Linked DNA regions of Homo sapiens: region 1 is linked to region 2. Evidence: fine-mapped expression QTL. Tissue or cell type: whole blood. Region 2 holds a variant in brackets; the other region holds the start of a gene. All regions are shown on one strand. Distances are between the middles of the regions.

What was found. PIP is the estimated chance that this variant, and not a neighbour inherited with it, causes the effect.
Region 1: PIGT starts here. The variant in region 2 is fine-mapped to the expression of PIGT in whole blood (INTERVAL, PIP above 0.99). The same link has a PIP of 0.9 or more in rectum.

Annotation. Positions count from the first base shown.
Region 1 is chr20:45,413,916-45,418,599 of GRCh38, forward strand. It overlaps PIGT (phosphatidylinositol glycan anchor biosynthesis class T), which reads left to right and starts at 2,226. Exons shown (of 12, transcript NM_015937.6): 1 at 2,226-2,428; 2 at 2,602-2,779. The coding sequence starts at 2,242. LOC107985405 (a long non-coding RNA gene) reads right to left here and starts at 4,468. Exons shown (of 2, transcript XR_001754640.2): 1 at 4,299-4,468; 2 at 1-2,902.
Region 2 is chr20:45,381,670-45,389,856 of GRCh38, forward strand. All of the region lies in intron 3 of SYS1-DBNDD2 (SYS1-DBNDD2 readthrough (NMD candidate)), which reads left to right. It also overlaps the pseudogene NDUFB4P10. Among named protein-coding and RNA genes, the nearest start is that of TP53TG5, 7.4 kb to the left of the region's middle. The variant C/T (reference allele first, on the strand shown) is at 4,651.

The DNA.
Region 1 (4,684 bases), 30 kb after region 2:
AAAACAGAGAAGTACAAAATAGTCATAATGATGGCAGCTACCTTTAAAAAAGTATTATTTTGAGGTTTGATAGTGTAGACTATAGTCCTAGCTCCATCACTCATTGTAATCTTTATTATCTTAGTTTATGTACTTCTTAATAATAACACTCAAGCAACCCTATCACTTAGGCACTATTATCTACATTTACATATTAGTGCCTAGGTGACAGGGTTGAGTGTTACTATTAAGCACTTGCTACATTCCATATCCTACATGTACATAATTTCTCATCTTAACAACAACCTTGAAAGTAGGTTTCTTCATTATACAAATGAAGAAAAGTGACACTTGGGTTGATCATGCTCATATGGATTAAAGGCTGGCATAGGGATTTGGACTCCTGTCTTTCTGACATCTAAGCCCATGGCCTTCCTAATATTTCGTGTCTAATGGGGCAGGAACACTGAATGCAGGCAGAATGAAGGCATAATGAGATAAAGACATCTTTCTGACATTTCCTTTCTGGAAATGTCTGGTTGGTTGGCGCATATCTTGGCAGACCTGCCTGACACCAAATTGGCTCTTTCTAGAAGTGTGGTCATGAGTGTCACCAAGAGACTGTTCATGAAATCCTTCATGAATGTGTTTCCCATAGGGCAGGTGGAAAAACTAAAGCATGACTTTAACTTTGGAACTCCGAAAAAGTCAATAAAAAGACAAGCCAGTAAACAAAGGGGTGAGGGTGCAGAAGACTTTAACAGACCTTTCACAAAAAAATAAAAATTAAATTAAAAAATAAATGGCAAATAAGCACATGAACAGATGCTTAACATTTTTAGTTACCAGGGAAATGCAAATTAAAACCACAATGAGCAAACACTACATACATACCCAAGTGGTCAAAACTAAAAAGTACAAAAAATTAGAAACTTCAAATGCTGACCAGGATGTGGTACAATGGAGACTCATAGTTTATGGAAACATAAAATGATACATTTTGGAGAAAGGTCTGACAGTTTCTTATAAAATTAAACATACACCTGCTCTCTGACCCAGCAATTCCACTCTTAAATACCTGGCCAAAGGATATGAGAAATATACGTCTACAAAGGAGCTTGCACAGACAGCAGCCTTGTTAATAATAACCAAAAACTTTAAAAGTGCCCATCAAGAGTTGAATGGATAAATTAATAATACTACGCAGTAATAAAAAGAATTGTGGATACATGCAAGAACATGGATGATTCTCAAAAACATTCTTCCCATGAGAAAAAAAAAAGCCTTACACAGTATACATACTATATGATTTCATTTATATTTAGTTCTGGAACAGATTAATCTATTGTGGGAAAAAATCAGGGTACTAACTGCCTCTGGAAGGTGATAGAGGAGCAGGGATTGACTAGGAAAGGGTATTGCTAATTTTCTGGGGTTTTAGGAATGTTCTGTATCATGATAGGAGTTCGGGTTACATAGGTGTGTGCATTTGTCAAAACTCAGTGAATGTGTACTTTGGATTTGTGCATTTCACTGTATGTGAATTTTACATCAAAATGCAATCGAATACTGAACTCTAGTTAATTATATGCATGCTTAACTACTTAAAGGAAAGTGTACTAATGTCTGCAATTTACTTTGAAGTGCACCAAAACACAAGATGGAATGATGGATGTATAGACAAATATGTGGTAAAGTACAAGTATAGTATAATGTAAATAGTAGAATCTAGGTGGTGGAAAATAGGTTTATTGTAACAGGTGCTCATTCTTTCAATTTTGTTTGAACATTTTCGTAATAAAAGAACCACTTATTTGGGGGTTTTGCAGCAAATGGAGACACTAGAAGCTAAGAGGGGCAGGAGGTTCCTCTTACTTTGGGAAATGCAAATTAAAACCACAATGGTTTTCCCAAAAGTAATTGATCTTTTTCAGTCAATGTTTCCTCAACTATCAAATGGGTAAAATGGCAGTGAAGGAGCTTCATATTATTAAGCATTTCCTGGTGGGTGGAATACGCCATGAACTAGGTGCGGCCTCAAGCTGGTTACTCGCCCTGCCTACTCCCTCTCGTGTCCTCCCAGTACCCCCTTAGACCCACCAGCTCTGAGGGAATCTTCGCGACCTGCGCAGGCGGTCGCTCTGATAACCGCATCCCGGTTTCCGGGACGACAGCGGAAGTCACTTCTCACACGCCTTTCTTATTGGATACCGGCTTTTCATGGGGCCGAGCGCCGCTGGGTAGGCGGAAGTAGCCGCAGGCATGGCGGCGGCTATGCCGCTTGCTCTGCTCGTCCTGTTGCTCCTGGGGCCCGGCGGCTGGTGCCTTGCAGAACCCCCACGCGACAGCCTGCGGGAGGAACTTGTCATCACCCCGCTGCCTTCCGGGGACGTAGCCGCCACATTCCAGTTCCGCACGCGCTGGGATTCGGAGCTTCAGCGGGAAGGAGGTGAGGGCGCGAGATCTGACCAGGGAAAGATTTCCGTAGTGCCTGCTGGCTGGCCGGCCGTGGGATGAAGGCAAACTTTGGGGGCGGGGCCTAATTCCTGGGTAGAGTTCGGGATCCTGGGTGTGGACCCCGACGAGGTGGGGATCGTCACTCACCTGCTCCCGTTTCCCCAGTGTCCCATTACAGGCTCTTTCCCAAAGCCCTGGGGCAGCTGATCTCCAAGTATTCTCTACGGGAGCTGCACCTGTCATTCACACAAGGCTTTTGGAGGACCCGATACTGGGGGCCACCCTTCCTGCAGGCCCCATCAGGTGCAGAGCTGTGGGTCTGGTTCCAAGACACTGTCACTGAGTGAGTGCACACCTTGGGCCCTGTTGCAGGCCATGGAGGGAATGTGGCTGGGAGAGTGTTGTCATCCTGCCACTGCTCTTGGGGACAGCACTTCCAGTAGGCAGCGATTCCATGGGGGTAGAGCTGGCATTGGAAGTAAGAAATGTTACCACAGATGAATAAACTTCCCAATCCTAAAACTTTCAGACCTGAGGTAGCACATGCATATCCCTGGAGAGGCAAATAGCAAACAATTAATGCTTATTTGGAGGTAAGGCAGTAGAAAACTGGCAACTGGATAACCTTTTAAAAGGCATTCATTAATATTTTTTAAATGATAATAAATACCACGAAAGCCAACCATAACATATCTGTGGGTTACAACTGGCCAACAGGATGCTACATCACAGTGTTAGAGGAACTGCTTTTGTTTGGGAGGGGGCAGGTCTAGTTACTGTGCCTACTACAAACCGCTATTTCCCAGTGGCTGCTGTGGCTATCCTGTTTAGAATAGAACCTTTCTGTGCAGTGGTTGCAAACAGGTCTACATGGGCCACACAGGTAAGGAATGAATAAAGGTATTTTTAAAATTGACAAACACAGGAATGAGAAATATATCTCATTTTCCTCTTAATCCCACTATAAGAAATCAATAGTGCAAGTATGATATAACAAGTTTTAGGGCAATAAAAAGGAGCAGCAGGAATTGTGGCAGGCTAGAGAGTTTGTGTGACATTCTAACGAGGACAGCTCTGCCACTCAGCTTCTATGGATTGTTGCCATGTGGGAATAGAGGCCTAATGTGGTCAGAGTCAAATGTTTCTAAAAATTTTTTGTAGAAACAAGGTCTCACTATATTGCCCAGGCTGGTCTCGAACTCCTGGGTTCAAGCGATCCTCCTGCCTCAGCCTCCCAAAGTGTTGGGATTACAGGCAAGAGCCACCACACCTGGCCTCATTTTTCAAGAGATACCAGAAATCTGGAATTTAATGTGAAAATTGGCAAATTCAAATATCAGCAAGTAATTTAAAAATTTTTTGAGTGCTGTGCGGGTCAATGTTGTGCATACCAAATGAAGCATGTTTATGGTTTGAGTAGAGCTTTCCGGCTTCAAGTTTGCCATTTTTATTTGAGGCTTAAGGATTGGAGCAGTTGAAAAGCTCTGAACATAGAATTATCAAAAGCTCCTGGACAACACTAAGGAATAAGGAATAAGCAGTAACTCCCCAGCTTGCCAAGACTTTCTCTCTTGCCTCAACTCTGGCTCCCCTACCCTTTCCTGTCTACTCTGCTGTCACTGTCTTCCCTCAGCCCGTAATTGCCTGAAATGTGGAGCAAATGCTTAGAATTCTTTCTAGTGCTTATTAAGTTTTATGCTTTCTCTATTACTGAGAGCAAATCTCTTTTGATATTTCTCCAAGAAAAGAACATTAATTTAATTTGATGTTTTTATGAAATCCTAGAACAGTTGTTTTTCCCATGTTCAGTGAGCTTTTTTGGATATAAGACTTCTCACCATGATAGTAGAATCAGGACTTACCTTTATTCCCAGAGTATACACAGGGTAGTATGCATTGTTTTGCCCAGCCCAGCACATTCAAGGAAGATCAGTGAGCTCATTTCAGCTCTGATACATGAGGCGCTTTCCATGGTGTCAGGGGAAGTACATAGATGACCCAGACTGGTCCTTGTCCTCAAGTTGCTTACAGCCTAGTTAGGGAGAAAAGGTGGTCAGGACACGATGCTGCTGCCACCTAGCCATCTCCCAGGAGGGACCTAGTAAGATGCTTGGATGGTCAGAACCGTGACTGCACAGAGGAGACTGTGCTTAAGGAGGGCAGGAAAGGCTTCGTGGAGGGGAGGTAAGCACTGGAGCCGGATCATGAAGGTAGGCAGAAAGAAGTTAGCAAAGGCTTGCAAGGAAGG
Region 2 (8,187 bases):
TATCCATCTTTAAACTTTTTTTATCCTATGGAATTGGATCTCTGTATTCCATTAAATAATAACTGCCCATTTTTACCTCCCCCAGCCCGTGGCAGCCATTGTTCTACTTCCTGTCCCTATAAATTTGACTACTCTAGGAACCTCATATAAGTGGACTAATACAATATTTGTCTTTTTTTTGTGACTGCCTTATTTCACTTAACATGTCTTCCATGTTGTAGCATGTGTCAGAATTTCCTTCTCTTGTCCGGGCACGGTGGCTCATGCCTGTAATCCTAGCACTTTGGGAGACCGAGGCAGGTGGATCACCTGAGGTCAGGAGTTCGAGACCAGCCTGGCCAACACGGTGAAGCCCCATCTCTACTAAAAGTACCAAAAATAGCCAGGCATGGTGACGGGCACCTATAATCCCAGCTACTTGGGAGGCTGAGGCAGGAGAATCACTTGAACTTGGAGGGTGGAGGTTGCAGTGAGCCAAGATTGTGCTACTTCACCCCAGCCTGGGCAAAAGAACAGCACTCTGTCTCAGAAAAAAAAAAAAAGAATTTCTTTTTAAGGCTGAATAATATTCCATTGTATGTATAGGCCACATTTTATTTCTCTGTTCATTCATCGATGGACATTTGAGTTTCTTCTGCCTGTTAGCTATTGTGAATAATGCTGCTGTGAACAAAGATATACAAACATCTCTTCAAGGCCTTGCTTTCAGCTTTTGTGTATATACCTAGAAGTGGAATTGTGGAACTGCCGAATCATATGGTAATTCCCTTTTTAATGTTTTGAGGAACCACCATATTGTTTTTCGCAGTGGCTATACCATTTTACATCCCCACCAACCATGTACAAGGATTCCAGTTTCCCTATATCCTTGCCAACACTTGGTATTTTCTGTTTCTTTGATAGTAGCCATCTTAATGGGTGGGAGTTCCACTCTTTTGTTTTATTTCCTCTCATACTTTGTTCTTTAATTTCTTTAGTTAGGTTTACTGGGATATATTTTATATACAGTAAAATTTACCTTTTTTAGTATACAGTTCTTTAAGTTTTGACAAATGCATACTAGTGTAGAATACCACAGTCAATATATGGAATGGCTTCATAACCCCCCTAAGTTCCCTCAAGCCACCTCTTTGTAGTTAACTCCTCTTCCCACTCCCAGCCCTGGCAACAAACTGATGTGTGTTTTCAGTCTTTATAGCTTTGCCTTTTCCAAAACACCATATAGGTGGAATCATACGGTATGCAGCCCTTTGAATCTGTATTTCTTTCACTTAAGATTTGCACATGTTGGGTATGTCAATAATTTGGGTTTTTTTCATTGTTAGGTAGTATTTCATTCTATAAATATGCCACAGTTTGTATGTGTAATCATTAAAGGACATCTGGGCTAGTTTCTGGTTTTCAGTGATTATGAATAAAGTTACTAAATACATTTGTGTACAGGTTTTTGTGGGAATACAAGTTTTTATTTCACTTGGATACATACTTAGGAGTGGGATTACTGGATCATATGGTAATTATATGTTTAACTTTAAAAGATACTGCCAGAATTTTCCAAAGTGGCTGTACCATTTTATATTTCCACCAGCAATATATTCAAGGTCTAGCTGACTCACATTCTTGGCAGTATTTGGTACTGTTAGATTTTTATTTGTTTGTTTTGTTTTTAGCCACTCTAGTAGGTATGTCATCATATCTTATAGTAGTGTTAGTTTGCATTTCCCTAATGACGAATAATGTTGAACATATTTTCATGTATTTATTTGCCATCTGTCTTTTTTGATGAAGTTTTTGTTCAAGTCTTTTGCCCATTTTTAGGTTGTTTCTTTTAAATATAATTGTGTTGAGTGTTCTTCACTAATTCAGGATCTCTTTATCAGATATATGACTTGCCAGTATTTTCCACTAGCCTGTGGTTTATCTTTTCGTTTTCTTAACTATCTATTTAAGAACAGATTCTTAATTTTGATGAAGTCCAATCACTTTAATCACTTTTTTTTTTTTTTTTTTGAGATGGAGTCTTGCTCTGTCACCCAGGCTGGAGTGCAGTGGCGCTCTCTTGGCTCACTGCCAGCTCCATCTCCTGGGTTCATGCCATTCTCCTGCCTCAGCCTCCTGAGTAGCTGGGATTACAGGCGCCCACCACCACACCCAGCTAATTTTTTGTATTTTTAGTAGAGACGGGGTTTCACCATGTTAGCCAGGATGGTCTCGATTTCCTGACCTCGTGATCCACCTGCCTTGGCCTCCCAAAGTGCTGGGATTACAGGCATGAGCCACCACACCTGGCCACTATCACTTTTTTTAAATGGGCTATGCTTTTGGTGTCATATCTAAGAAATATTTGCCTAACCTGAAGTCACAGAGGCTTATGCCTATATTTTCTTTTAAACATTTTATAGTTTTAGTTTTTTAAATTTAGATATTTGATCTATTTTTTAGTTAACTTGTATATAGTCTAAGGTGTGGATTAAGGTTCTTCTTTTGCTTATAGATATCCAATTATTCCAACAGGATTTTGTTTTGTTTTGTTCAGAGACAGAGTCTCTCTCTGTTGCCCAGGGTAGAGTGCAGTGTTGCACTCTTAGCTCACTGCATCCTCCGCCTCCTGGGTTCAAGTAATTCTCCTGCCTCAGCCTCCCAAGTAGCTGGGATTACAGATGTGTGCCAACACAGCTGGCTAATTTTTATATTTTTAGTAGAGACAGAGCTTCACCATGTTACCCGGCTGGTCTCGAACTCCTGACCTCAAGTGATCTGCCTGCCTCAGCCTCCCATCGTGTGAGCCACCATGCCCAGCCCCAACATGATTTTTTTGAAAAGACTACCTCTCTCCTTTGAATTTTAAAATCAACTTACTGATTTCTACATAAAATCCTACTAGGATTTTGATTCACCTTTGGATTCATTGTTCTGAGTCATTCCTTCCTTTTTCTGTGCATTTGCAGTTGAGTTTTTTTCTCAATCTGCTTCCTGCCTGTAGAATTTTGGGATGCAAAGGCCTCTTTTTACTTTTTAAGATTTTTTAAAAATTTGAAATGATTATAGAGTCAAAGATGTTGCAAAAATAGAAAGGTCCTGTGTACCTTTCTCCCAGTTTCCTCCAGAGGTAACACTGGACAAAGCTAGTACAATATCAAAAGCATAAAATGGGCAGTAGTACAATATACAAACCGTGTTCAGATTGTACCAGTTTTACATGCACTCATTTGTGTGTTTCATCACCATAAGGATCTCTCTTGTGCCATCTATACCTCCCTCCTCCATTCAGTACCTAATCCCTGGAAACCACTAATTTGTTTTTTGTTTTTTTGTTTTTGTTTTTGTTTTTGAGATGGAGTCTCTCTCTGTTGCCCAGGCTGGAGTGCAGTGGCACAATCTCGGTTCACTGCAACCTCCGCCTCCCAGGTTCAAGTGATTCTCCTGCCTCAGCCCCCTGAGTAGTGGGGACTACAGGCGTGTGCCACCATGCCTGGCTAATCTTTTGTATTTTTAGTGGAGGTGGGGTTTCACCATGTTAGCCAGGATGGTCTTGATCTCCCAACCTCAGGTGATCCACCCGCCTCAGCCTCCCAAAGTGCTGGGATTACAGGTGTGAGCCACCGTGCCCAGCCTGAAACCACTAATTTATTATCTACTCTATAATTGTTGTCATTTCAAGAATAGTATATGAATAAAAGCAAGTGAAGGTATTAAAAATGTTGTATGAGTGGAATCATACAGTGTGTGACCTTTTGAAGTTGGCTTTTTTCACTCAGCATAATGCTCTTGAGATCCAAGTTATTGCATGTATCAATAGTACTTTAAAAATCACAGAAAGTTTCAAAAAATATACATAGAGGTTTTGTGTACCCTTTGCTCATTTTCCTCCAATGGGTGGGAAAATCTTACATACCTTTGGTATAATATCAGAACCATGTATAAATTCAGGTAACCACCATCACAATCAAGTATAGAACTGTTCTGTTATCCCAAGGCTTCCTCATGCTATTCATAGCTACAGTCACCCCTCCTTCCTCTCACCCCAATCCCTAAAAGTCCCACTTCATCTCTATAATTTTGTCATTTTGAAAATATTATATACATGGAATGATATAGTATGTAACCTTTCAAGATTGGCTTTTGTACTGGCTTTTCCATATAATGCCCTTTATATCCACTTAAGTTGTATCAGTAGTTTTTCCCTTTTTTTGCTGAGTGCTATTACATATAACACAGTTTGGCCATTCACCCATTGAAGAATGTTTGTTTCCAATTTAGGGCTATTATGCAGGTTTTTGTCTCCACACATAATTTTCATTTCTCTGGAATAACCTTCAAGGAGTATGAATGCTGCCAAACAATTTTCCAGAACATCAGCAATGTTCATACATTGATAGACCTTCTCTGCATTTTGACTTGCTTTTAGAATGGTCACTATTTTATTTTAGCTGTTTTAATAGGTGTGTAATGATATCTTACCATAGTTTTAATTTACATTTCCCTAATGGCTATTGAAGTTTAATACATTTTAGGCCGGGTGCAGTGGTTCATGCCTATAATCCCAGCACTTTGGGAGGCTGAGGCGGGTGGATCACTTGAAGTCAGGAGTTCGAGACCAGCCTGGCCAACATGGTGAAACCCCCTCTCTACTAAAAATACAAAAATTAG[C/T]CGGGTGTGGTGGCATGCACCTGTAATCCCAGCTACTTGGGAGGCTGAGGGAGGAGAATTGCTTGAACCCAGGAGGTGGAGGTTGCAGGGAGCCAAGATCATGCCTCTGCACTCTAGCCTGGGCAACAGAGCAAGACTCTGTCTCAAAAACAAACAAACAAATGAACAAACATTTTAATATGCTTATCTGCCATCTCTGTATCCTCTTTGGTGAAATATCTGTTCACTTCCTTTGCCCATTTTCTAATTAGACTGTTTGGATGTTTGTTCTAGAAAAAGAGTCTTGCTCTGTCACCCAGGTTAGAGTGCAGTGGCATGATCATAGCTCACTGCAGCCTTGAAATCCTGGACCCAAGTGATCCTACCAAGTAGCTAGGACTACCGGCGCTTGCCACCATGCCCAGCTAATTTTTTTTCTTTCAAGACAGGGTCTTGCTGTGTTGCCCAGGCTGCTTTTGAATTCTCCTGGCCTCAAGCCATCTTCCCACCTCGGCTTCCAAAGCACTGGGCACAGGTGTGAGCCACTGTGCCCAACCTGTTTGTCTGTATTTTTACTTTTGAGTTTTGAAAGTTCTTTATATATTCTAGATATGAGTCCTGTGTAAGATGTGTGATTTGCAAGTATTTTCTTTCTAAATTTGTATGTCTTTTATTTCCTTTTCTTCCCTTATTGTACTAGCTAAGACTTCCAGCACTACATTGAATGAAAGTGGTGGGAACAGACATTCTTGCCTTATTTTTGATCTTGAGTGGATATATGACACATATAGTATATGTCACTAACAATGGAATACCAAAATATATGAGGCAAAAACTGGTAGAACTCCAAGGAGAAATAGACAAATCCCATTATAGTTGAAGACTTCAACGACCCTCTTTCAATAATTGATAAATCAAGTAGGCAGAAAATCAGTAAGTACATATTTTATCTGAATACCACCATCAATCAACTTGATCTACTGGCATTTATAGAGCACTCCATCCAACAATAATAGAATATACATTCTAATACAATAATAATAGAATACACATTCATATCTAGCTCACATGGAGTATTCAAGAGATAGTACATTCTGGGCCACGAAACACACTGGAACAAATGTAAAATGATAGACTCATAAAAAGTATGTTCTCAAACCACAATGGAATTAAACTAGAAACCCATAACAGAGAGAGCTGGAAAGTCCCCAAGGTATTTCTAGAATAAACAACACACTAGACTAGTAGGTAGCACATGGATCAAAAAAAAGTCTCAAGAGAAACTTAAAAATATTTTTAACTAAATTAAAATGAAAAATATAGTTTACCAAATTTGTGGGATGCAGCAAAAGCCATGCTTAGAGGAAAATTTATAGCATTAAATGCATATATTAGAGAAGAAGAAAGATCTAAAGTCAATCTAAGCTTCAGAAAGAAGAAACTAGAGAAATAAGAGCAATTTAAGCTTAAAGTAAGTAGAAGGAAATAATAAAAATCAAAGCAGAAATCAATGAAATTGAAAACCAGAAGATGATAGAGAAAATCAGTGAAACCAAAAGCTGTCTCTTTGAATTATCAATAAAATTAACAGATCTCTAGCCAGGTTAACCAATTTTTTTTAGAAAAAGAAAGATACAAATTACCAATATTAGAAATTTGTTTGTTTGTTTGTTTGTTTTTGAGATGGAGTCTCATTCTGTTGCCCAGGCTGGAGTGCAGTGGCGTGATCTTGGATCACTGCAACCTCCGCCTCCTGAGTTCAAGTGATTCTCCTGCCTCAGCCTCCCGAGTAGCTAGGATTACAGGCACATGCTACCACACCCGTCTAATTTTGTACTTTTAGTAGAGGCGGGGTTTCACCATTTTGGCCACGCTGGTCTCGAACACCTGACCTCAGGTGATCCACCCACCTTGGCCTCCTAAAGTATTGAGATTACAGGTGTGAGCCACTGCGTCCAGCCCACATGTATTATTTAGAAATGTGGTGGGATTTTTGGATTAATAGAAGTGTATTTAAGCAGGAATACATAAAATCGTCATTGCTAGACTTAATATGAGATGTTAAATGTTTGATCCAATTTTTCTTCCTGGATAAGCTTTTCTTTCCTATCCCTACCGGATCCGATTCCACATAGAGCTACTGGATGAGTATTTGATAATGGGTCTGAAATTGGGATAGACATGTGCTGATCTTACACAAGTCCAACAAATTAAGCCAAGATGTTTGATGAGCCCTCGATGAATCATCATTGGTTAGGGTCATTGTGCTGATTAAGTACCCCTGTTTAAACCCAGATTTATGGCCAAATGCTCAGGTTGCAGTTTGTGGAGGTATGTCATATTCAGCTGGATTGAGGGTCATGGGCAGAGGGGCCAGGTGTGATGGAGTATAGTTTGGGAGAGTCATCTTGGTGACCCAGTGCACAACTGCGCCTCTTGACTCATGTATTATTCAGAAATGAGGTGTTTAATTTCCATATGTTTGGAGATTTACCTATTATCTTTTTGTTATTGATTTCTAGTTTGATTTCATTGTGATCTCAGAACACATGCTGTGCGATTTTGATTTTCAAAAATTCCTTGAGGCCGGGAGCAGTGGTTCATGCCTGTAATCCCAAGTCTCTTGGATGCCACGGTAGGAGGATCACTTGAGGATAGGAGTTGAAGGCTGCAGTAAGCCATGATCGGCACCACTGCACTCCGGCCTGGGCAATAGAGCAAGATGCTGTCTCTTTAAAAAAATTTTTTTTAGTTGACTTTTATTCTGTGACTTAAGATATAGTCTTGGTGAGTGTTCCATAAGCATTTCAAAAGAATGTGAATCTTGTTATTGTTATGTGAAGTATTGTCTAAATATTAATTAGATTCTTTTGATTGATGGCTTTTTAAAGTTCTTATACATCCTTGCTGCTTTCCTGTCTAGTGTTTCTTTTTTTTTTTTTTTGAGACAGAGTCTTGCTCTGTCGTCCAGGGTGGAGTGCAGTGGCACAATCTCGGCTCACTGCAGCCTCCGCCTCCCGGGTTCAAGCAATTCTCCTGCCTTAGCCTCCCGAGTAGCTGGGATTACAGGCGCCCGCCACCACACCCGGCTAATTTTTATATTTAGTAGAGACAGGGTTTCACCATGTTGGCCAGGCTGGTCTTGAACTCCTGACCTTAGGTGATCCACCCGCCTTGGCCTCCCAAAATGTTGGGATTACAGGTGTGAGCCACCATGCCCACCCTTCTGTCTAGTATTTCTATCAAGTGTTGAGAGAGATGTGTTGAAGTCTCCAACTTTAATAGTAGATGTCTATTTTTTTTTTCAGTTCTACCAATTTTTGTTTCATAGATTTTTAAGATCTGTTGTTTGGTATGTACACATGTATGATTGCTATGTCTTCTTTGTGATTTGACCCATTTAATATCTTTTTTTGGCCCTGGTGATTTTCTTTGCTCAGCAGTCTATTTCATCTGATATTGAAATTGCTAACTCTGCTTTCTTTTAATTAATCTTTGTATGGTGTATCTTTTTTCATCCTTTTATGTTCAGTCTACCTATGTCATATTTGAAGTGAG